7 linked regions of the Homo sapiens genome follow. The main gene of each other region encodes a partner of the protein of the gene in region 3 in a complex. Each region holds a gene or a part of one and is shown on either strand. Other genes may lie near its edges.

The links.
Region 1: MED20 (region 3) and MED24 share a complex: the UniProt entries of both Homo sapiens proteins name them as parts of the mediator complex.
Region 2: MED20 (region 3) and CCNC share a complex: the UniProt entries of both Homo sapiens proteins name them as parts of the mediator complex.
Region 4: MED20 (region 3) and MED23 share a complex: the UniProt entries of both Homo sapiens proteins name them as parts of the mediator complex.
Region 5: MED20 (region 3) and MED26 share a complex: the UniProt entries of both Homo sapiens proteins name them as parts of the mediator complex.
Region 6: MED20 (region 3) and MED7 share a complex: the UniProt entries of both Homo sapiens proteins name them as parts of the mediator complex.
Region 7: MED20 (region 3) and MED18 share a complex: the UniProt entries of both Homo sapiens proteins name them as parts of the mediator complex.

Annotation. Positions count from the first base shown.
Region 1 is NC_000017.11:40,020,815-40,023,423, reverse strand, and holds part of MED24 (mediator of RNA polymerase II transcription subunit 24), read left to right. Parts: intron 1-28; coding exon 29-293; intron 294-597; coding exon 598-779; intron 780-939; coding exon 940-1,030; intron 1,031-1,369; coding exon 1,370-1,469; intron 1,470-2,609. UniProt on the Homo sapiens protein: Component of the Mediator complex, a coactivator involved in the regulated transcription of nearly all RNA polymerase II-dependent genes.
Region 2 is NC_000006.12:99,541,863-99,544,843, reverse strand, and holds the end of CCNC (cyclin-C), read left to right. Parts: intron 1-570; coding exon of another isoform or gene 571-622; exon of another isoform or gene 623-1,064; intron 1,065-1,234; coding exon 1,235-1,289; 3' UTR 1,290-2,457; downstream 2,458-2,981. UniProt on the Homo sapiens protein: Component of the Mediator complex, a coactivator involved in regulated gene transcription of nearly all RNA polymerase II-dependent genes.
Region 3 is NC_000006.12:41,904,653-41,908,002, forward strand, and holds the end of MED20 (mediator of RNA polymerase II transcription subunit 20), read right to left. Parts: intron 2,636-3,350; coding exon 2,420-2,635; 3' UTR 702-2,419; downstream 1-701. UniProt on the Homo sapiens protein: Component of the Mediator complex, a coactivator involved in the regulated transcription of nearly all RNA polymerase II-dependent genes.
Region 4 is NC_000006.12:131,600,673-131,604,379, reverse strand, and holds part of MED23 (mediator of RNA polymerase II transcription subunit 23), read left to right. Parts: intron 1-59; coding exon 60-202; intron 203-1,175; coding exon 1,176-1,350; intron 1,351-1,998; coding exon 1,999-2,162; intron 2,163-3,707. UniProt on the Homo sapiens protein: Required for transcriptional activation subsequent to the assembly of the pre-initiation complex. Component of the Mediator complex, a coactivator involved in the regulated transcription of nearly all RNA polymerase II-dependent genes.
Region 5 is NC_000019.10:16,618,014-16,621,720, forward strand, and holds part of MED26 (mediator of RNA polymerase II transcription subunit 26), read right to left. Parts: intron 1-3,707. UniProt on the Homo sapiens protein: Component of the Mediator complex, a coactivator involved in the regulated transcription of nearly all RNA polymerase II-dependent genes.
Region 6 is NC_000005.10:157,140,019-157,144,312, forward strand, and holds the start of MED7 (mediator of RNA polymerase II transcription subunit 7), read right to left. Parts: upstream 2,848-4,294; 5' UTR 2,802-2,847; intron 2,758-2,801; exon of another isoform or gene 2,383-2,757; intron 1-2,382. UniProt on the Homo sapiens protein: Component of the Mediator complex, a coactivator involved in the regulated transcription of nearly all RNA polymerase II-dependent genes.
Region 7 is NC_000001.11:28,331,985-28,334,404, forward strand, and holds part of MED18 (mediator of RNA polymerase II transcription subunit 18), read left to right. Parts: intron 1-2,420. UniProt on the Homo sapiens protein: Component of the Mediator complex, a coactivator involved in the regulated transcription of nearly all RNA polymerase II-dependent genes.

The sequences.
Region 1 (2,609 bases), on a different chromosome or scaffold from region 3:
GCCTCAGGTTCTCTCGGCCCTCCCCCAGGGTGGTGATCATGAACTCGATCCTGGAGCGCATGTGTGCCGACGTGCTGCAGCAGACAGCCACGCAGATCAAGTTTCCCTCCACCGGGGTGGACACAATGCCCTACTGGAACCTGCTGCCCCCCAAGCGGCCCATCAAAGAGGTGCTGACGGACATTTTTGCCAAGGTGCTGGAGAAGGGCTGGGTGGACAGCCGCTCCATCCACATCTTTGACACCCTGCTGCACATGGGCGGCGTCTACTGGTTCTGCAACAACCTGATTAAGGTACTTGGGCTGGAGTGGCTGTGGGCCGACATGGGTCCTGTCCCCTGGCTCCCCACACCTGGCCTGGTCTGCCAGGCTTCCCTGAGAGGCTGCCGTGAGCCAGGTGGCCTCCCCGGAATGCCTCGCCTCAGAGTTGCCTCCTTGGGGAGCTCTGGCCAGAGACTGGGATTCAGCCTGAGGGGCGGAGCAACATCTGGGGCCCCCTCTGCGGGCCTTACTGGACAGCCATGCTGGGGTGGCAGGGTGTAGGAGCCCCAGATCCCGGGCCCCTGGCTCCTGAACTGCCCCCTTTCCTGCGCACTAGGAGCTGCTGAAGGAGACGCGGAAGGAGCACACGCTGCGGGCAGTGGAGCTGCTCTACTCCATCTTCTGCCTGGACATGCAGCAAGTGACCCTGGTCCTGCTGGGCCACATCCTACCTGGCCTGCTCACTGACTCCTCCAAGTGGCACAGCCTCATGGACCCCCCGGGCACTGCTCTTGCCAAGTAAGATTCTCTTCAGAGCTTGCCCTGCTCCGGCCACCCAGGGTCAAGCACCCCTCGCCTGGTGCCACCCTGGGAGACTGGGCTTTGGGGAGCCCAGTCAGACACAGAAAGCTCCTGGGGCACCTCTCACTGTCCCCCTTTTTCTGGAACCCTTTGCCAGGCTGGCCGTGTGGTGTGCCCTCAGTTCCTACTCCTCCCACAAGGGACAGGCGTCCACCCGCCAGAAGAAGAGACACCGCGAAGACATTGAGGTAGGCCCCCCAGCTGCCCTCGCCGGCTTCACTTGTTCACCGGTTTGTTACAGCATTTCCTAAGGATTCCCCAGGCAAAGGGAAGCAGTTGTGGCCCCTGCCCTTGGGGCAGCTGTGCCTGGGCATGATTGGTCAGGAATCTGCATGGGTGATTTGTGTGGCCCCAGCTTGCCCATGGGCACAAGGGGCCTGTCAGATTGTGGGAGGGGTTGAGCAGAGAGGGGCTGAGGCCCTGCTAGCCATGCTGACCTCGCTCAAATCGGAGCTCAAGCTCTTTTCCCTGACAGCTGGAAACTGGGGGGTTTAGGGGTGTATAACAGTGACTTTCACTCCCTCTAGGATTATATCAGCCTCTTCCCCCTGGACGATGTGCAGCCTTCGAAGTTGATGCGACTGCTGAGCTCTAATGAGGACGATGCCAACATCCTTTCGAGCCCCAGTGAGTGTGTGGGCTGGCCGCGCGCCGCTCCTTTTCCTGGGAATTCACTCCCCGATGCTGCCACTCTGCCGCTGCCCCAGCTGCAGGCATCTTTGCAGCTGGTCAGAGAGGGTGTGGCAGGGACCTGCTGTTCTAGCCCCCAAGGGGGTGCTCTGTGTCCTGCCCCTGGAGAAGAGGTTGCTGTTCTCACTCCCTGAGGGTTGAAGCTCCTCTGCCCAGGTCCAGCCCAGCCCACAGTTGTTCCCCCACAGCCCTCCTGCCCCTCCCTTACCCCAGGGTTGAGGGGATGACAAGCTACCCAAGTGAGTGAGTTCACTGCCTCAGGCACAGCCTGTGCCATTGACTCACCAGCTCTGACCTTCCTTCCTTCCTTCCCCCAAAACATGCCCGGAGAGGCCCGGGCTGGGGCATGGGGCTACTCCCCACCTTCCTGCCTAAAGAGCACACCCCCCACCAACCACTTCCCTGGAGGTCATCCTTTTCACTGTCCCCTCCTCCCTGCCAGGCTTACTGCCAAGGGTTCCTTCTGTGGCATTTTTCCTGTTTCCAGAGATTTCTCCTGAGCCTGAACTTTTCTCTGAAGCCTTTTAGGAACTAGGGGACCAACTATACACTTGATCAGAAGAAAGATGCTAGGTTTGCCAGCTACAAGTGCTGTGACCTTTAGCTAGCGACTGAGCCAGCCCCCGTCTGGGTCTCCTCATCTGTAAATGGGGTGTTGTGAGGAGTAAGCAGCTTAGGAAGTACCAAGATCGGCCCCTGGCCCTGTGTGCTCACCACATGTTAGTTTTTCTCTCTCATTCCATTGGGATCTCTGTATCTGAGGTCCCTCTGTGCCCTTTTTTTGTTTTGTTTTTTGTTTGTTTGTTTGTTTGTTTGTTTGAGTTGGAGTCTCCCTCTGTTGCCCAGGCTGGAGTGCAGTCGCACGATCTCAGCTTACTGCAACCTCCGCCTCCTGGGTTTAAGCAATTTTCCTGTCTCAGCCTCCTGAGTCTCTGGGACTACAGGCGCCTGCCACAACGCCTGGCTAATTTTTGTATTTTTAGTAGAGACGGGGTTTCACCATATTGGTCAGGCTGGTCTCGAACTCCTGAACTCAGATGATCCACCCGCCTTGGCCTCCCAAAGTGCTGGGATTAC
Region 2 (2,981 bases), about 58 Mb from region 3:
AGAATTAGGTAAGTTCATCTGAAATTCAGGGCAGAATTCAGAACTATAGTAGTTTCATGTCAGTTTGATTCTGTGCCATCTTTTTTTTTTTTTTTTTTCACTGCTGGCTATTGTCCTGTTTTATAAATTTCAGTAGCAATTTTCAAAAATTTCAATGAATGATCTGATATTGTAAAGATAAAGAATTTTGGTTTTTAAGTGACCCTAAGGTCCATGGCACATAAGAATATATTTTTGCTAAAAATGAATCACCTGTGCTAAGAGGGTTTTTTTTGTTGTTATTGGGGTGTATGTGTGTGTTTTAAGTAAGATGTGTTCATTTAGTTCAGTGGTTCTCAGCCCTCACTGTGTATCAGTTCATTTGGGGCAGGGAGAAAAAGTCAGAAGGGAAATAAAGAAATGCCATCCATCTTAATTGTTTCTTTAGAAAAATGATTGTTATATAACAAGATAGATTTATGGATTGCTACTCATAAGTTAATGTTACAATTTGGAAAAAGTTAATACTTTATTCAAGGAGCTGTTTAAGGCAGTCATTCAAACAGCTACCTTTGGATGCATTTTTTGCAGAAATTCCCTGAGTGATTCTCCACTAGTGGCAGGGCCTGAAGCTGCAAGATGATGGTGGACAAGATAAGGCAATAATCCTATTGCCAAAGTTACTGGTATTTTCAGTTTTAGTTATTTTTAAGTATTCAGCATTTTTATTTTAAGTATTCAGCATTTTCCAGGAAATTACCATATTTCTTGCTGACTTATAAAGGTTTGCTGTATTTATATATGATTTTATTATGCCTTTGGACAACAGTTTTGGTTTTTTTTTTTTTTTGAAGAACACTTCTTGTTTTTCATAAATAGTAGGAATAGGATTTTATATGTAAGATTTAATTTTATAGGAAATTTGTTTAGAAGAAGCTGTAATCTCTATGTTGAGTGATACCTGTAATAACAATGAAATCCCATACCCTAATTTAAAGTTTTTGAGTATATATGGACACTAACTTCCAGAATGCTTGTTATATGTGAGGGCACAAAGTTATATAAGAATAAAAACATAAAACCAATGTTTGTTAGTCTTCTGGATTTTAATTTTTCACGTGTCTTATAATGAGGAATGTCTTTGTTTTGTATAGTTGTGCCACAGAATAATGAATTTAAAAGTCAGTAGGCTTATCAGGGTGTAAAAATGGATCTTTTAATTGGTATAAAATCTCTTTCTTCCCCATTTGAACAGTGAAGGAGAGCAGGGTCCAAATGGAAGTCAGAACTCTAGCTACAGCCAATCTTAAAACATTCCGAAGAATTCCATAGTGGACCACTTGGAAATAAACCATTGGACAGATTTCAGTAATGTCTTCAGTGGAACACAAATGAAAATGAATAGCTTGTTTCTGTCAAGCATATTGGAAAGTGATTTTATTTTTGCAAAATAAGTTTTTCTTTAATATGATTCTAGTACATAATTGATTAAAATCTCTTGATTATAAATGTTTGGAAAGGTTCTAAGGGGACCTACAGACAGACATACATAGACATTTCAAAATTAATAGCTTTTGATTAGTATAATATTTCTTAATTTGGATAATAAAAATTGTAGCTTTTTATTAAGCCAGGAAACATGAAGCATAATTTGTTTAAAATTCTCTTTGGTCATTGAGGGACCAAAAAAGGACGTAAAATTTACAGTCAATCTATGAGGGTTTTTTTCCCTCCATAAGTTTAACTTTAAAACTGTATTTAAGGAATCAAATCTTACAAAATCCTGGAAGATTTTGGTAATGATGTTGATAATTTCAGGGAAATTAATCAAGTACCTATATTGATTTAAAAGTGTATTTTATTCAGTAGTTTGAGGATCTTGCCATGGAAGATACTAGCCCAGCCTAGCAGAAAAGTGCAATATGTATAGCATACTTTGACATTTTAAACATGATAGTCCATAACCATTTTGAAATGCTGGGCAAACTACATGAAGTTATTTATAATTAATTCACAGCTAATCAGGCATTTTGAAAGCTTAATTGGATTCAAAAACCATAATGTTGGAATTTGGTAAAATTTTAATGTTGATTTTTACTGTGAAAAGGTTTTTATAAGATATACACACCCTAGTTTAATGTTGTGTCTTGGTGTGGATTTACAGATTTACTACAGGTATTCTGAACCAGGAACACAATCAGGTTTCAGGCCAGTTTGATACTGGCTGTCCTTAATTCTAATATGAGAGTAGGACATCATACTAAATGTTATGTCAGTGGGACTGTACTGTCTGTGGAACTTAGCAAATTAATCATTTTCTTCAGACTTGAAGGAGAGTGATAAATAAAATTTGGAGTCATAGGATATTGATGCACAATTTAAGGATTAAACATTTTTAATCAATTGTGGATGATGGCTTATTAAATGTTGACTTCCTAGTATAAAACTGCAAGAATAAAAGTAACTTCTCCAGCTGTATCGACTAGTGTCTTGAATTTATCTTTTTGAATTTGCCTGATGTTGTTTTTTGAGAATTCTTCTTCCTTTAGTTAAGTGTTAAAGCCTTTTATAGGTTGTCAAGGGGGTAATTTCAAATCATTACAAACAGATTTTAAATAGAAAATTTATTTCTGATGGAGCGTATCAAATGAGCTGGAAAGCGAGACTGTGTAAAGTCAGACTGATGACATATATAGGTTTCCTGGGCTTAATAAGAAAAAAAGCTCTCCTCAGGTCTGAAGGAATTAATGTTGGGCTTAGGTAAGACCTATAGTCTTTAAGTGTTTATTTTTAAAATTAATACCATGCCTCATAGTTTTGTTTTCAGTCTCTTATTGTGGAAGATTTAAAACAACATATACAGGAGTAAAGTAAGGAACCTCCATGTACCTATCATCTAGCTTCAGTAGTTATCAATTTATGGCCAATTTCATTTCATCTAAACTCCCACCCACTTTCCGTAAGTTGCCATCCCCCATCTTATTTTGAAGCAAATCCTAGAT
Region 3 (3,350 bases):
GGCGCCTCTAATCCCAGCTATTCGGGAGGCTGAGGCATGAGAATTGCTTGAATCCGGGAAGCGGAGTTCGCAGTGAGCCGAGATTGCGCCGCTGCGCTCCAGCCTAGGTAACAAGAATGAAACTCCATTGCAAAAAAATAAAATAAAATAAGGGTCAGGCATGGTGGCTCACGCCTGTAATCCCAGCACTTTGGGAGGCTGAAGCAGGTGGATCACCTGAGGTCAGGAGTTCGAGACCAGCCTGACCAACATGGAGAAAGCCCATCTCTACTAAAAGTACAAAATTAACTGCACATGCCTGTAATCCCAGCTACTCGGGAGGCTGAGGCAGGAGAATCGCTTGAACCCAGGAAGCGGAGGTTGTGGTGAGCCAAGATTGTACCATTGCACTCTAGCCTGGGCAACAAGAGCAAAACTCCATCTCAAAAGTAATAATAATAATAAAAAAACAAAATAAAAGCCAAGTGTAGTTAGGGATTTTATACTGCTTTTTAGCTTTTAGGGAACAGAGTCCCTCCTTATGATGCATAAGTCTAGAGAGTCTATATTTACCACGATCAACTTCTGGAGATTTTCAGGAAATGCATTGTGTTCAAAATGCTGCCTATGCATTGTTTCATTCCATAAAAGCTGCAGCCTACAGAAAAATACAAATAAATAAACCTGGACGAGAGCAAATGTAAATCAGGAGGCCAAAAAGGTAAGATCTGTGCGTTTTATTTTTGTAAACTATATCTAAAACATACCTCAATATAAAAAACCAGAAACAAAATAACAAAAACGGGGTGAGAACAAAAAATACAGATGACAGGTTCTGTAGTTATGGTACTGAACTGAGCTTCCTGTCAGCCAAAACTAGAAGGGAAACATGACCACCACCTGACTTGTTGCAGAGGCTTTAGATCTGAGCACTTGGATCTGAAAACAGTTTCTCTTTAGATGCCTTCAAATAAGGGACAGTATCCTTGATGACAATACAGTACATACATTCACAATTCTCCAAGACCATCTCTGTGTATATCAAGGTTAACCTGGATGAATATTTCTGCAGCAGGCATGGGGTAGGCAGGCAATATGACCAAATATGTAGTTTGGAGGCTCAAATGAAACAGGAGAAAGAGCTCAGGAACCATGAAGCATGGTGCAGGTATCAGGGTCAAGTATTCTAACCCTAAGATCAGGGTGCATGAGAACTGGAGAGGCCTCAATACTGAGACTTAGACGAAAGGTGTGGAATTAACTTCCTAGTGTGACTAATCCAACTTAGCTCAAAGCGGCTCTGAGATCAGCCCTTCTCTCAAGTCAACTCATAAACAAATGCTTTAGTTACAGGAGGTATTAACTGCAAAATAACAGCCAAAAGCATTCCTGGGCACGTCCATTGAGCTCCATGTAACAGAAGCCATTAACTGCATCTCAGCAACCAAATTGTCTTTCATCTTGTAGTCACAGAATCCCTGAGTTTTAACTCAGCACATGACTGCCCAGATAAGAGGTTCTATGTCCCAGCATCTCTTTCAGCAAAGTGTGGCCACAGTGATCTGAGCAATGCTCAGTCATATCTTTTTTTTAAAATCTGCTCTTTTCTCTCTCTCTTTCCCCAGTGGAATGCAGATATGGAGCTGATGAGTCTGCTTTGATCTTATGGGTAAGAAAACATACTGGGAATGGCTGAATAAGACAGAAGGAAACAAAGTTCCTGATAACCTTGTAGAGTTAAATCTGCCCTAGACCATCTGATTACCTCTCTATTATTAGGTGAGAAAAAAACAAACTTCGATCTTATAGCAGTTTGGCCTGTGGCTTAACATATTTCACAACAGAAGGGAAAGATGTCAGAAGGAGATTTCAAAGGACTCAGGCAACACCCTAGGAAAGTCAATTCGCAAATCACTTCAGCAAACAGGTCAGAAAATAGTAACTATCAAACCAGTTGTGCCTTCTACTCCATCTCTAGGATAGAAGCCCAGCCACATCCTCTGAGGGAAGGAAGAGGCTCTTATTACAGCACAATCCAAACATAAAATGCAGCATGTTCACCATTGGCCTGGGACAAATCCTTAATAGTTGGGGATACGGACTATTTCCCCCACCAGTACCAGGCAGGGACATTCCTGTCCTACCTTTCCCCTAAAGGAGGCAAGGTCCAAACTTCTCCACTCTTCATAATTACCATTCTTGAGGACAGGCCAAATCCAGTAAGGCACGGAGTAAAACAGCTGATGGGGGGCTATGTGTGAGAGTCAGGGGGTTGGGGAGGGGACTCAGCCCCAGAACAAAAGCCACAGCTGAGAACCAGAGAAGGAGAGTAGAGTCCATGTCTACCCTGGGTTTCTGGGGTCCAGGGACCTGAAAGTCAGCACCTGCTCCTCCTGTGGAGTACCCCTGGTGACAGAGCTCAGCTGGCAGCTGCTCATCACTAACGAATCCCAGCCACCGGCACCTGCTGCTGCTTGCGGATCTTGTTGAAGAGTTCCATGTACTGGACCATGGTATCTGCTGGGCCGTAGACCGCATCATGTCTGTTCCCAAACACTGCGGGAGCCCCTGGTGTGTGGCTGCCTAGAAAACTCTGTAGGAACTCGAGCAGCAGACTCCAGCAGTCACTAGCTACCACACAGGGGCCATACTCCACCTGGGAACCAAAAGCACAGAGAATGAGGGTGAATGAAGGCTAAGACAAGGTCTGCTTCTCTTGTACCTCCTGCCTCCTGCTCCCATCTTCCCCAACCCCGAGCTAAAGACACACACCTCCTAGCACAGTATTGGTCCACAGGAAACATTCAACCTAAACACTGGGCTCAATACCCAGCATCTTTAGGCATCTTTGACCTTCTCATCCTGGAGCTGTGCCAACCCGCAGCCCTCCCAGAGGACCCAGAAGCAGATCTGGGCCCCTTTTGATGATCTCAGGACTGTGTTGTCCCTGCTATGCTGGGTAAAGATTCAAGGAGAGCTCAAGAAAATTCTAAGAGACACAACAAAGAGAAAGAGAAGGAAAATGTGTGTGGGGGTGGTAAGTAGAGAGTAGAGTGGACACATATGCTCATGAGTTTTTTTCAAGACCAAATTTTACTCCCTAAGTAGAACCAACCTGGGTTCTGACCCTAAGAAAGAATTTCCCAAATAGTGTGTCATGGGCCAAAAAATATACATCTTAGGTTTTCTCCTTCTGCTCTCTTAATTTTTTACTGGAGAGATGGCAGGGCAAAATTACTGGCAACCCTAAGGAGAAATAAGTAAAGAAACAGGTGGAGTGTGTTTCTACTACAAGATTAGAAATGTGGAGGATAAACAGCGGGTCCTCAGTGGGTCTCAGCAAATCCAAGGTCTATCACAAGCCGAAAGGG
Region 4 (3,707 bases), about 90 Mb from region 3:
GCCCCTATGTTTATGTCAAAAATATGGATTTTTATTTTCTTCCCTTTTTTTCTCCTCAGCCTTATTCACAGCATTGCAACCAGGGTGATAAAACTTGCTCATGCAAAGTCCAGTGTGGCCTTGGCTCCAGCCCTAGTGGAAACTTACAGTCGTTTATTGGTCTATATGGAAATAGAGTCTTTGGGCATCAAAGGATTTATCAGTAAGACAGGACTTTCTGGTGTTTATAACTATTAACCCATTCATTAACTCTAAAGTTACTTTTCTAGGTCCTGGGGACACAGCAGAGAACAAGTCACCACCATGATGGAGCTTATGGAGGAGGACATTAAATAAATGAAATATACAATATGTCAGATGATACATGTTATAGAGAAAAATAAAGCAAAAAGGAATAGGAAGTGTGAGGGTTGGGGGGTTTGTTGCATTTTTAAGTAAAGTGGTAAGAAAAGGTTAATGTGCTAGGTGCCTGGGATGCAGTGAGCAGGATAGACCTGGTCCCTGTCCTCATGCAAATGGATTCTGCCTGAGGCAGCAATGCTGTCCTCCAGTGCATACGAAGTCTGACTGGAAATAAAGAAGGAATTTTCCTACCTTGCAGAAGATACATTATAATGTCTCATTTATTATATAGTTCTAAAATAATAGATACTTTCTGATATAGAAGTGTTTTTCTGATTCATGGTAATTCCAGCTTTTCACGAATACAGCATAGTCTTAATTTTAACCACAATAACTCTTCTTAGATAACTGATTGTTGAACAAAACTTTCTTGGGGGTAGGAGGAAACAAGGGCAGGTATAATACAATTTTTTGTATTAAAAAGTGAACCTCATACTTCAAAAGGTATGGAACATTAATTGTCTAAAAATAAAAGATATCAGAATTGAGAAGATTAATGTTTTTTCATATCTTGTCTCATTTTATTTTTCCAGATAAACATGATTATCAATTGCCAAATCCCAGGAAAAAAGCAAACTTGATATTATAGTTAGGATCTGAATTTTTCCTTACTGTTAAAGTAGAAAATAAGAAAATATGGAGAATATATATGTGTGTGGGCGTGTGTATTTTCACAATCAAATCTTTATATTTTACTCAATGTGACTTTCTTCAAATATCTTTTCATGCATAGCCTTTAATAATTGGTACCTTAAATTGTCTTTTTCCTCCAGGTCAGCTTTTGCCAACTGTTTTCAAATCACATGCATGGGGGATCTTACACACACTCCTTGAGATGTTTAGCTACCGGATGCATCATATTCAGCCTCATTACAGAGTTCAGCTCCTGAGTCATCTTCATACTTTGGCTGCAGTTGCACAAACAAACCAGAACCAGCTCCATCTTTGGTGAGCTCATTGAAGACCATCTTTCCTTAAGATTTATTAGAAACTTTCTTGGAGATGAGGTTCTTAATCCTTTACCTTTACCTTATAGTTTTTTTTTTTATTATTATTCATCTGTCATAAAACTTCTCTGCTTCTAAAGTATTTTGTTTCCAGTATAGGAGCAGAGTCCAGCTTTTTAAATAGAAACTGATTAAGATAGTTGAGTCCTTCCTTCAGGATCTTTGGACTGAGAATTAGTACTTCCAGGGTATTTATTATTATGTTGTAACTTAGCCCTTTAGAATGCTGGTTTTAAGTATACTTCAGATTATGGTTAAAGTATCATGTCACATTGATTTTGCTTTACATTAAAATATATTTTAGATAGAAAAATATAATTTTTGAAATGCAGTATCTCCAGGTGAAATTTTTTAGTCCTATAGGCGACAAGCCATCTTTTTCAAATGTGTAAAAAGTCACGATTTTCACTATAAAATTGGACACATTAGGTTTTTTAAACAAATTAAGCAACATTTATTCTCACACAAAAGTGTTTTTTTAAAGAAGGGATAGTCATAGATTGCATGTTTTTCCATTGTAATTAACCTTAGATTTAATTCCATAATTCTGAAATTTTTTTACATTTCTTTTTATTCTCCCAATTTTCAGTGTCGAGAGCACTGCTCTCAGGCTTATAACAGCATTAGGTAGCTCAGAGGTACAACCGCAGTTTACACGCTTCCTTAGTGATCCCAAAACAGTGCTCTCAGCAGAATCTGAAGAACTGAACCGAGCCTTGATATTGACCTTGGCTAGAGCAACTCATGTAACAGGTACGGTGAATATGTGACTACAAACAACAACAGATGAATTAAAGTGTGCCATGATTCTACTAATTACTATAGTTGTAACATACTAAAAAGATACTTTTCATTTGTTTGAAAAAAGCCTGTTGTTTTGATATCTTCACTATTTCACTCATTTATGGAAGCTCTTTTGTGTACCATCATTCTATTAATAACTGCGTTGAGCATCGTTTTCAGCTATCCATAATTTTAAAGTAGTAATACTTTAAGCTTTTTGGTCTCAGGACTGCTTTACACTCTTAAAAACAAAATTGAAATTCCCAAAGAGTTTCTGTTTATATGGATTATATCTATGGATATTTATTATATTAGATATTAAAATTAAGAAGTTTAAAAATATTTATTAATTTGTTTTTAAATAGCAATAATAAACATTACATGTTAATATATGATGTTATAAAAAAAGTATATTTTCTAAAGCAAAACTTTAGTGAGAAGAGGTGCCATTGTTTGACATTTTTGCTTCTCTAATATCTGGTGTAAAGGAAGACATAGTTTGGATTCTCATCTGCTTAGACATTTAATCCATTGAAGTTTTAGTTGAAGTAAGTGAAAAATGTGGCCTCACACAGATGAGGTTGGAAAGAGAGGAGTATTTTAATAGCTTTTTCAGATAATTGGGAATGTTCTTTGACATCACATGGAAAAATGATAGTTGCTTAAAGGTTAGCTGCAATATGGAATCCAAAACCCCCAGTAAACTTCATGTACTTTGTTACATTATAATCTGTACATCTGTTTTATACATTTAGTGGATTTTTAAATCCATGCATGTTTTGTAACTTCATGAATTATTCATTTTGAAAATACTGGTTCACTGAGTTACGTAGATCTAGCAAACGTTGACATTTTGTTTATACAGTATCAGAAAATTACATTTGTTAATATCACTGCAAAGTTTATTAGAAAAATCTAAGTTTTGGAATGCTATCATGTCGTGGTAGATACAGGTTTTCCAAAATTTCAATTTTTACTTGAAAGGTCAAATTTTATCATTGGAAAAAGTTACTATCATTTGTTTTCCTTAAAGTGACAAGCTCATTTTGTTAATTTTCAAGAAAATGTCTGCTAAATACGTAAGTCTAGCTAGCTATAGTTTTCTGTCAGACGTTCTTTCAAGTAAAATTGGAATTCAAAAAAAAAAAAGCAGCTGATTTAACTCAGTGCTCAGTCAGTCACACAAGTGCACAAGTGTTTTTCCTCAAGACACCCATCAAACTTGGAACACTAGGCATATGCTTCCCCTTTTGTTACATATGATGTTAAAAATAGGTGTCGAGATTGACACTGGCACTTTTCTTTCACTGAGTGCATGTGCTGGAGAATACAAAGCCTTTTCATCTAGTCTGGCACCACTGTTTGATTTGTGCTTAGGACCAGCAGTTTTACCACCATTGCTTTTGTACCGTCAGTGCTCATACCAAGTGAAAAAGCCTGATATCTTTTTATTATTATTTGACCTCATTGAATCTTTGAAGGGCTATTGGGGAATCCCCAAGAGGTCTACAGACC
Region 5 (3,707 bases), on a different chromosome or scaffold from region 3:
AAAAGAAAGATCACTTGACTCTACCCCTCTCCATTAACCGAAGGGGAAGAAGCCAGGCCAGGAAACACAGGTACGAGTTTCCGGTTACCCAGAGGGGAGGCACAGATGAGAGGAAACAGGCAGGACAATCAGACCCAACAGATCTCCCAGCCTCTGCCCAGGGTCCACAAATTCAGAGAAGCTACAGGAGGGGCCACAGCTCTTGCCTGGGTCACAGCGCAGTCTCCTCATGACCACAGGAGGCCTGGTGGGGTTCAGGCCACCTGGACCGCACCACCTCCCCCAGCAATGAGCTCCATTCCAGGCAGTGACTGAAGCACCAGGAGAGACTGTCAAGACAGGGAGGAAAAAACAGCACCATTCAAGACTGTCTCCAGCCCAGGACAGGATCTGAAGCTGCAGCTGGCCAGCACCTGCACTCGGACAGCGTGACAGCGAGGTCCCCAAGGGTGACTACAGGCAAATGGAGTCTGTGGTTTAACCAGAACAAGAAGGTACTCACAACTCCACGCGGTGACCTCACACCAGCCAAACCACCCTGTTGCTACTCTGGACCTTACATTTCCCATTTTTTTCCCCAAAAACTCCCATTTTGCCTTCTGGAGCCAAGGCCCAACTATTTGGCGGTCACATCAGGAGAGGTGATGACATCAGTGCACATCCATGGACACTGGATCCACTATTCTTCTCCCGTTAACAGGACCTTGATGTCTCCTGGGAACATCCCCTCTATTGTGGGACTGTTTGGGTGGAACCCACAGCAGATTCAGGGGTAAGCCAATCAACTAATTCAATCAAACTGCTAATCCAATCAAAGCTCAGAGAAGGCATAAGGAAACGTTTGGTGGGGCTTCCAGCAAAGAGTCGGGAGTTCGGTGAGGGAAAATCCTGAAACTGCTGGGATGGAGAGGAAGACACCCTACTGTGTGAAGGCAACACTGCAAAAGAGGGAGACAGAAAAACCAGGTCCTCACCTGACCGCAGACTTGCCTTTGGGCCTGCATGACCATCAGCCCCTTTGTGTCTAAGCTCCTGCCACCAGCACAGTGCTAACCTCCCTTTAGGGCTGGACAGGCCACAGAATTAGTATAGGAAGTAAAGACAAGTGCTGTGCAGGCAACCAATTAACACGGAAGGAAACAATGTGAACCAATGACCACCCAAAAGGATAAAACTGTTCTTATTTTATATCCCTTCACATCAGTATCACGGGTCTCCCACTGACAGCACTGAAAAGCCAGCTTGCTGACTGCTTGCCTAGGCACCATGCAAGATGCACCTGGGAGGTGAATGGAGTTGGGCAGCATCTATAAAGGGTTCTGGAGGGCTGGCCTGCAGAACAGGAGAGCCGTTAGCTACCATGGTAACTACTACATCACCCTGGGGGGAACGAGGATGTGGCCACCTCTCCATGCCTAACTCAAGCTGGGCCAGGAACCTGATGACTAGAACGGGGGACATCAAAACAAGTCATCAAGGGGATAAGAACTTAAACCCAGTGTGTGCAGGGGGCTGCCCAGAGAGCCAATGTGACCAGGAGTGTGGGTGGGAAACAGAAGAGTGCACTACCGTGCTGAAGGCACAAGCAGGCAGTGGGGCTGCCAGGGCCTGGGAGTGCTGCCAGCCCACTGGGCTCTCGGTGTGGGCCATGGGTCACACCCACCTGAGTCCTCCCAGTAACTCACCCACTGCTGATGCCTGCACCACAGAACCCCCACCAGAGTCAAGGCCAGCCACAGCCAACGCCCTATAAAACCATGCTGTGCACCCAGCACACGAATACCCGAGTCTCCACAGCAGCCACGAGGCTGACCCACCACCAGGGTGTGGCCTGGACAAAGCAGCACCCTACTTTCTCACCATAGCAAATGAAAATCTGGGGGGATGTGTGTCCAGGAATGCCATGTTTTGTCACATGACCAAAAAAGGCCGAAGGATCGCTGGGGACCCAGGCTTCACAGATGAAGTGACATTTGAACAGTGTCTAGGGACCATGGACAGGCAGAAATCTAAGATCAAGCGCCGCCTTCTCTATTAGGGTGAAAAATACCTGACGAGAAAGAGAGGAAAACACACCTCACACCCCTTCTTCAGCCAGTTCCAGAGAAAGCACAGAGCATTTTAGTGACCACTGTCCTCCCAGTCTGGCATAAGAGCAGTGCACAGATGAATCCAGCATAAACAGCTGGACCCAGGCAAGAAAGGGGAGTGCCTGCGCAGCAAGTGCCCACTGGCCTCTCACATGACAAGGGAGGCAGCCAGCAGGTGGCTGTGTTCCAACCCCAGCCTCATCCCATCTAGCCTCCTTCCAGCTGTGTCCGCTGAGCCTCAGTTTCCTCACTAGTACCTGCCTCCTGTTTAATCTACACCTGCTATGAAGATTAAATGTGTTTTGAATGCAGGTGAAGTGCTGAAAACCGCTGGCACCTAGGACCTGCTCAGTAACGCTGACAGCCATTCCCAAAACTGGCCCTGTTTACAGTGAGAGCACCAAGCATTTGGGCACCCACGTGCTGTGGCAGTTCTAGACACTAAGGGAGCAACACCTGCTCTCCTACTTGGGCACTTCACAATCACATGGAAAATGTAACCAACAAGACCTGTTATCAGCAGGAATATAAGGTGTTAAAATGATGAATGGTTCCTGAGGGAGACGGTCTTGGATTAAGCCAGGTAAGGTTTCAGAAAAGGGAGGCAGTAGGGATGACAGGAGGCTCCCAACTGGAGGCAGCACAAAGGTCAAATTCCAGGTGTCACACACATACAGGTAAGGCCTGCTCTCAGAGTTACACTGATGCTGTTTTGATGACAAGACAGAACTTCATTTCGAAGCATGACTGGATTAGGAGTAGGTTCTGTCCTCGAATTTTCTTTAAAACAGTTACTCAAAGCACACCTGTTGTTATGTGAAGCTTCCAGAAGGTTTCTGATGATAAAAATGAACCCTCATACTCAAAAAGGTTTGGAGCCACTAGGCTAGAGGAATTTAAAGGGGGAAAAGTTGTAGGAACTGGGAAGGAATGGAATTCAAAATGTAACATGTGAAAACACTTCATGTTTGCAAGGGTACACCTTGGAAGACGCAATGGAGTTCAGCTTCCATGCTGGGCACCACCGATGTGGGAAGCGGAAGACTGTCGTAGTTAAGCCCTCTGACATCAGAACCACCCAGTGATGGATTCAGACCCAAGGCTTCTGGTTCCCTTGTCTGCAATACCAGACAAATCGGTGAATCTCTCCTAGCCCCTAAAATGAAGATGAAGCACCTACCCTAGAAGTAATTCAAAGAAGCAATGAGACACTCCACACAGTAGTGTCTGGCACTGTGTAAGTGCTCAGTAAACAGCGGCTGTTCGTCTTGCAGCCTCTGCTGCCCAACAGAGACTGCTGCTGGCACACAGGAGACCGAGCCTAACTCTGCATGCAGGGGAAACCTGATGAGCCCCCTGACGTTTTCCAAGATTCATTTTCCTGCAGTGGATGAACCCAGGAAACTTTGCTGCAGTCACAGTAACATCCAAAGGCCTTTAACCCCAATTGCCTGGCAATCCTTGGGATGTGAGTTCCCAGAGGGCTGCTGGTACTTCACCTGACATGACCCCTCTCCTTTTGAATAGGCTCCACAGAGAATCGCAGAACCTCCCGGTACTTGGATGGTCACAGAATCCAAAGGCCTATACACAGAATCCAAGGGCCTGGGTATGTCC
Region 6 (4,294 bases), on a different chromosome or scaffold from region 3:
TGTTTTTTGAGATGGAGTCTTGCTCTGATGTCCAGGCTAGAGTGCAGTGGTGCAATCTCAGATCTCAGCTCACTGCAACCTCCGCCTCCTGGGCTCAAGCAATTCTCCTGCCTCAGCCTCCTAAGTAGATGGGATTACAGGCGTGCACCATGTCTGGCTAATTTTTGTATTTTTAGTAGAGACGGGATTTTGCCATGTTGGCCAGGTTGGTCTCTTTACTCCCCATCTCAGGTGATCCGCCCACCTTGGCCTCCCAAAGTGCTGGGATTACAGGCGTGAGCCACCACGCCTGGCCTGTATGGACACATTAACTTCTCTACAACTATCACAGAAATGTCAAACCCCAGGTTCAAACCCAGTATCTATGGCCATAATAACCTCTACTTATTCTACCTTAAGCCTAGGTATACCATCCAATGAGAAGATCCTTAAGTGCTCCTTTAGATTGGTGTTATCAGAGTTTCAAGATATAACACACTCTAACATCGGGTGGGGCAAGTATCCTACTAGAAGCAATATTATACTTAGAATTCGTGAGGTACTGAGGGCAGCTGTGGCGCAGCCCTGAGTTTCCACTATGCCACAGTGGTGCATAGGATGATGCAGCCTCGCCCTCCTAGGCTCAAGCGATCCTCCCACCTCAACCTCCCAAGCAGCTGGGACTACAGGCATGTCACCAAGCCCGGCTAATTTTTGTATATTTTGTAGAGACAGAGTTTTGCCATGTTACTCAGGCTTGTTTCAAACTCCTGAGCTCAAGCAATCCTCCTGCCTTGGCCTCCCAAAGTGCTGGGATTACAGGCGTGAGCCACCACACCCAGACATTTTAAAACTTTTAACATAAATTCAGATTACAGAAAAAGTGCATGAATACACAAAAAACACTTCATATTCTTCACTCAGATTCTCCAAATGTTAACATTTTCCTTCATTTGCTTTATTGGTTTTTCATTCCTTTACCCCTGAATACTTCAGTGTGTTTTCTCGTGACAAGAATGTTTTCTTCTACCCAAAGCACAATTACCAAAATCAAAGAATTAACAGTGATCTGGTACTTCAAAATACATTTTTTTTTTCCCTGAGACAGTGTCTCGCTCTGTCACCCAGGTTGGAGTGCAGTGGCACGATCTCGGCTCACTGCAAGCTCGGACTCCCGGGTTCACGCCATTCTCCTGCCTCAGCCGCCTGAGTAGCTAGGACTACAGGCGCCCGCCACGACGCCCGGCTAATGTTTTCTATTTTCAGTAGAGACGAGATTTCATCGTGTTAGCCAGGATGGTCTCGATCTCCTGACCTCGTGTTCCACCTGCCTCGACCTCCCAAAGTTCTGGGATTACAGGCGTGAGCCACCGTGCCCGGCAGAAAATACAATTTTTGACAGCTCACGTTTCATCCCACTCAAACCTTTTTAGGTGAGGAGTGCTGCTCTGTACTTTCCTACACGATGTGCATTCCTGTATTGCGGCTGCCATTTTCCTAAGGCCAACTACATGACAGGTACCATTTTTTATGGCCTCTGTAACATAATCTTCATTAACAATTCTATGAATTAAGGTTTTTGGGGTTTTTGTTGTTAGTTTTGTTTTTTGAGACAAGGGCTCAATCTGTCTCCCAGGCTGGAGTGCAGTGGTACCATCAGGGCTCACTGCAACCTCTGCCTCCCGGGTTCAAGGGATTCTCCTGCCTGAGCCTCCTGAGTAGCTGGGGACTACAGGTGCGCACCACCACGCCCAGCTAATTTTTGTATTTCTCGGTAAAGACAGGTTTTCACCATGTTGGCCAGGCTGGTCTGGAACTCCTGACCTCAAGTGATCCGCCCACCTCGGCCTCCCAAAGTGCTGGGATTACAGGCGTGAGCCACCACACGGTCCCACGAATTAAGTTCTATTATCAATTTCATTTTAGAAGTGAGGATCCGAAGTCTCAATGAGGGGAAGTGTTGCCCCAGATCAAAAGGTTAATAAATGGCACAACAGGAATTCTTATCCCAGGTCCCTTTAGCTCCAAAGGGCAAGCTCTCTTATATCCCTAAGCCGAGAAGCATCTAACTGTACAATAAGGACTGGCATATCACAAAAATTATATTTCTTTCTCTACTGTCTCTCTAGATGGAACTTTTCAAAGGTGATGGAGGTCTTATTTTTAATAAAAGCAGAGCCAAGCATCAGAGCTGGTTCTTAACTCAAGATCCAACATCTAGTGTTTGTTCTACTGGGGGAGAAGGAGCTTCACCAGAAGACGACAGACATTCCAGGGTCCCAGCCCCAGAGATTTGATTCATTCTGTCTACTGTGAATGGGCCCTAGAATGTCGCTTTTAAAACCTCTCCAGATGGACCTGACGATTAGGCTTGGGATCTACCGCCCTCGCCTGCCCCCATACCTCAGCTGTTTCATAACTGCTCCCAGAAGAAGGAAGGGCAGGGAGGGCTACTCTCATGTTACAAAGAGCCGGAGAGGGCAAATGACTCGCCCAAGGCCACACAGCTTAGAAAAACAGCGGCGCGGGGACTAGACGCCAGGTCTCCCAACCTCCACTCCGGCTCGGCGTCCCAACACGGAGGAAGCCCCGAGACTGCCACGCTTAGAGCCCCCTCCTCCAGGCTGTCCACCCCGAGGCCTCCGCGCTCTCGGAGAGACCGCACTCTCGGAGAGACTCGGGAGAGAAAGACGAAAGACCGCCTTTGGAGGCCGAACTCAGCCATGCCTCCCCAGTTCCCAGCCCAGCACAGAGGAAGCTGCGGGGTCCGGAAGAAAAAAACGCACACAGGCGGCGGCCCCAAACCGTTGCCGCCCACTTACCTCAGCTCTGGCTTTACACTGGTAGCCGCCTTCCCCTCTGCAGCCGAAACCAACTTCCGGTCTCCTCCGGGAAGAAGCCACCGACTCTGTCCTTGATTGGCTGTAAGAGCTGTCCTTTAACGAAATTCTAGCTCCGCCTCAGACCGATCCCTCGCTGTTGCGCCTACGTATGTTTGACTCCTCCCATCCACCCGTTACTGACTTTTAAAAGTCGTAGCTGAGGGTTCCGTTTCTTCGTTTCTTTTTGAATTAAGGCATAAAATTGAACAAGACACCTTATTGCTTTATTTTTTATAGACCCCTTATTGACCAGAAACAATCTTATGTTTTAATGTTTAACATGCTCTTGTAAGACTTAACGTGAATTTAGAAATTTATGACACGAAAATAACCTCCAAAAGAAACGCTTGCTATTGCGCCTGCGTATATTCCACCCCCTTCCCCATTACCACTCTTTTACTGACTTAGTCGCTGCTGGTAGTTCCATTCCTTTTGTCCTTTTTTAATTTAACGCATACAATTAAGACGTCTTACATACAAATTCGAAAATATAGACATGCAGGGTTTTTTTGTTGTTTTTTTCTTTGAGACGGAGTCTTTCTCTTTCGCCCAGGCTGGACTGCAGTGGCGCGATTTCGGCTCGCTGCAACTTCAGTCTCCGGGATTCAAGCGATTCTCGTGCCTCAGCCTCCCGAATAGTTGGGGTTTCACCTATTTTTTTTTCTTTTTTTTGTATTTTTGGTAGAGACAGGGTTTCACCGTGTTGGCGAGGCTCATCTCGAGCTCTTGATATGAAGTGATCCGCCCGCCTCGGCCACCCAAAGTGCTGGGATTGTAGGCGTGAACCACCACTTCCGGACTCCCCCATTTTAAATCCCTCGCACGTATCAATTTATTTCCTGAAGAAATCCATCTACGTTGAGCATAACCCAATCCAGCTTTTCTCCTCACCGCTGACCCCAATGTATCCTGCACCAGTGACTTCCAATGGTCGTTCCCAGTCCTCATTTTACTCCATCTGTCAGCAGCATTTGGCACATTTGATTAATGGATTGCCCCAGGACTCAGTTCTCCAACCACTTCTCAGTCAGATATCAGCTGGATGATTACATGCAGGCCCTGGAACACCGTTTCCTCTGCACTTCAGACCCTCATATCCAGTGGTGACAGACATCTTTCCCCAGTTGCACTTTACTCAATTGCAAATGTTCAATCGAAGGAATCACCTTTTTCTCCTTTCTCACATACCCCACCGAAACTACCATACCAGCCTTTTGCATTAGATCTATTTAAAAATAAGTAAATAAAGTTCCAAATATGACTGACCACCGTTCCCACTGCTATGGTCCTATGCCATGCCACCATTATCTCTCACCTGGACTTCTTTGATTTTTTGTCCTCCCTTAGTCTATTTACCACACCTTCTTAAAATATAAGACCGGTCTTATCACTCCTCTATTCAAAATCCTCCAAGGCTTTCTATGACTTTTAGA
Region 7 (2,420 bases), on a different chromosome or scaffold from region 3:
CACCTGCCTCAGCCTCCCAGAGAGCTGGGATTACAGGCGTGAGCCACCGCGCCCAGCCAGATTTTGTAAACAAGTATCTGAATATGTTCCTAACATTTGAGCCATAGCCATGGAGGCAGAAAGATGACTAAAAAAATGTATGTCAAGCCAGCTGTTACAGGCTTATGCCTGTAATTCCAGTTGTTTGGGAGGCTAAGGCTGCAGTACTGCTTGAGTTCGGGAATTCAGGATTAGTCTGGACAACATAGCAAGAACTCATCTCTACTAAAAAAAAAAATTAGCTGGGCATGGTGGTGCGCACCTGTAGTCTGAACCACTTGGGAGGCTGAGGCGGGAGGATCACTTGAGCCCAGGGGATGGAGGCTGCAAAGAGTTATAATCACGCCACTGCTCTATAGCCTGGAGACAGAGTGAGACCCTACCTAAAAAAAAAAAACAAAACTATGCCATAAAAATAAAGCAGGAAAGTGGCTAGAGATTGGTAGGACACATACTATTTTATTAGGGTGATCAGAAAAGGCCTTGATGATAAAGTCACTTGAGCAGAGACCTGACAAAAGTGATAGAGTAGACATGCAGATGGGAAGAACATCCTAAGCACAGAGAATAGGAGAAGGGGTGTGGCAGGAAGGTCACTCCTGGAGAGAATGATCAAGGGGAGGAATAGAAGGAGATGATGTTTGGCAGGTAGCAGAGACCATAATATGTAGGGCCTTGTTGACAACGGTAAAGATGTTGGCTTTTATTCTGAATGACACAGGAAGCCACTGTAGTGTCCTGAGTAGAGGAGTGTTATTATCTGCCCAATAATTTAATAGACCATTTGGCTTTCATATGGAGAAGAGAGGAAGAAGGCAAAGGTAGAAAGAGGCGATTGCAAAGACCAGGCAAGAAATGAGGGTGACTTCATTTGAAGGGACTAGGTTGAAGTGACCAGATGAGTGAGAAGTGATTGCATTCTGCATTTATTTCAAAAATACGGATTCAATGGAGGGTATGAGAGAAAGAAAGAGGGTGTGAGTCAAAGATGATTTTCTGGTTTTTGGCCTGGGTAACCAACTAAAAACAGAGAGTTGCCATTTACTGTGATGTTGAAGACTGTAGGGTGAATAAGATTTTGGAGGAAAAAATCAACAGTTTGATATTGAACATGTTAAGATAAAGATGTCTGTTAGGCATCCAAGTGAGGAAACTGAGTAGGAAGTTGGATGTTTTCATCTGTAGTTCAGAGATAAAAACGTGGGAGTCCTCAGGGCCTAAATGATATTTAAAGCCATGGGACCAAATAAAGTCACCTAGGCAGGAAAAGAGTATTGATACAGAAGAGGACCAGGATTGAGTCCTAGTCCTCCAGTGTTTGGGGAAGATGAGAGAGACCAAGCAAAGAAGACTTAAACGGAATGGTCAGCAAGTTAAGTGAAGACAAGAAAGTTGTGTCTCAGAGGCCAAGGGAAGAATAGATTTCATAGTGGGTATAATCTACTGTAACAATTATGTCAGATGTTGCCAAGAGGATGAAGATTCTATGAAGCAATTCACTCTCTTCTACTTACATACAGAAGAGGAAAACTTTTCCTGATAAAAAGGAAACTTTAGCCAGGTGCAGTGGCTCCATGCCTGTAATCTCAGCACTTTGGGAGGCTGAGGCAGGCGGATCACGAGGTCAAGAGATCGAGACCATCCTGGCCAACATGGTGAAACCCTGTCTCTACTAAAAATACAACAATTAGCTGGGCGTGGTGGCACACGCCTGTAGTCCCAGTTACTCAGGAGGCTGAGGCAGGAGAATCGCTTGAACCCAGGAGGTGGAGGTTGCAGTGAGCTGAGATCGCACCACTGCACTCCAGCCTGAAGACAGAGCTAGACTCCGTCTCAAAAAAAGCGGGGGAGACTTTATATTTCTTCTATAAATGGAAGACTTTGATTTGTTGGAAATAGAAGGCAATTGTTAAAATATATAACAACAAAATAGTGTTATTGGCTGGGCATGGTGGCTTGTGCCTGTAATCCCAACACTTTGGGAGACCAAGGCCAGGAGTTCAAGACCACCCTGGGCAACATAGTAAGACCCCAACTCTACAAAAATAAATAAATACATAACTAAAACAGTATTATTACATTCTAGATAGACACTGTCGCTGATTAAAGGCTCTAAGCCCCAGGCCTGCTGGAGATGAGCATTAGAAGAGGCCTAAAGACTTTGTAGTGCTAAATAAGAAAATTCCAAAAAAATTGAAAAGGAAAATAACTTTCTCACAACGTTATACAATACCTTGGTAGTGTAATTTCTGTAAAATCTCATGTTTGGCTGTATGTTTTATGAAATGCTTCACTAAACTGTTTTGGTTTTTCATTTAAGTTTTTTCAATTGTATACTAACTCCATGACCTAAAATGAAAGACAGGACTCAGTGGTGCTTT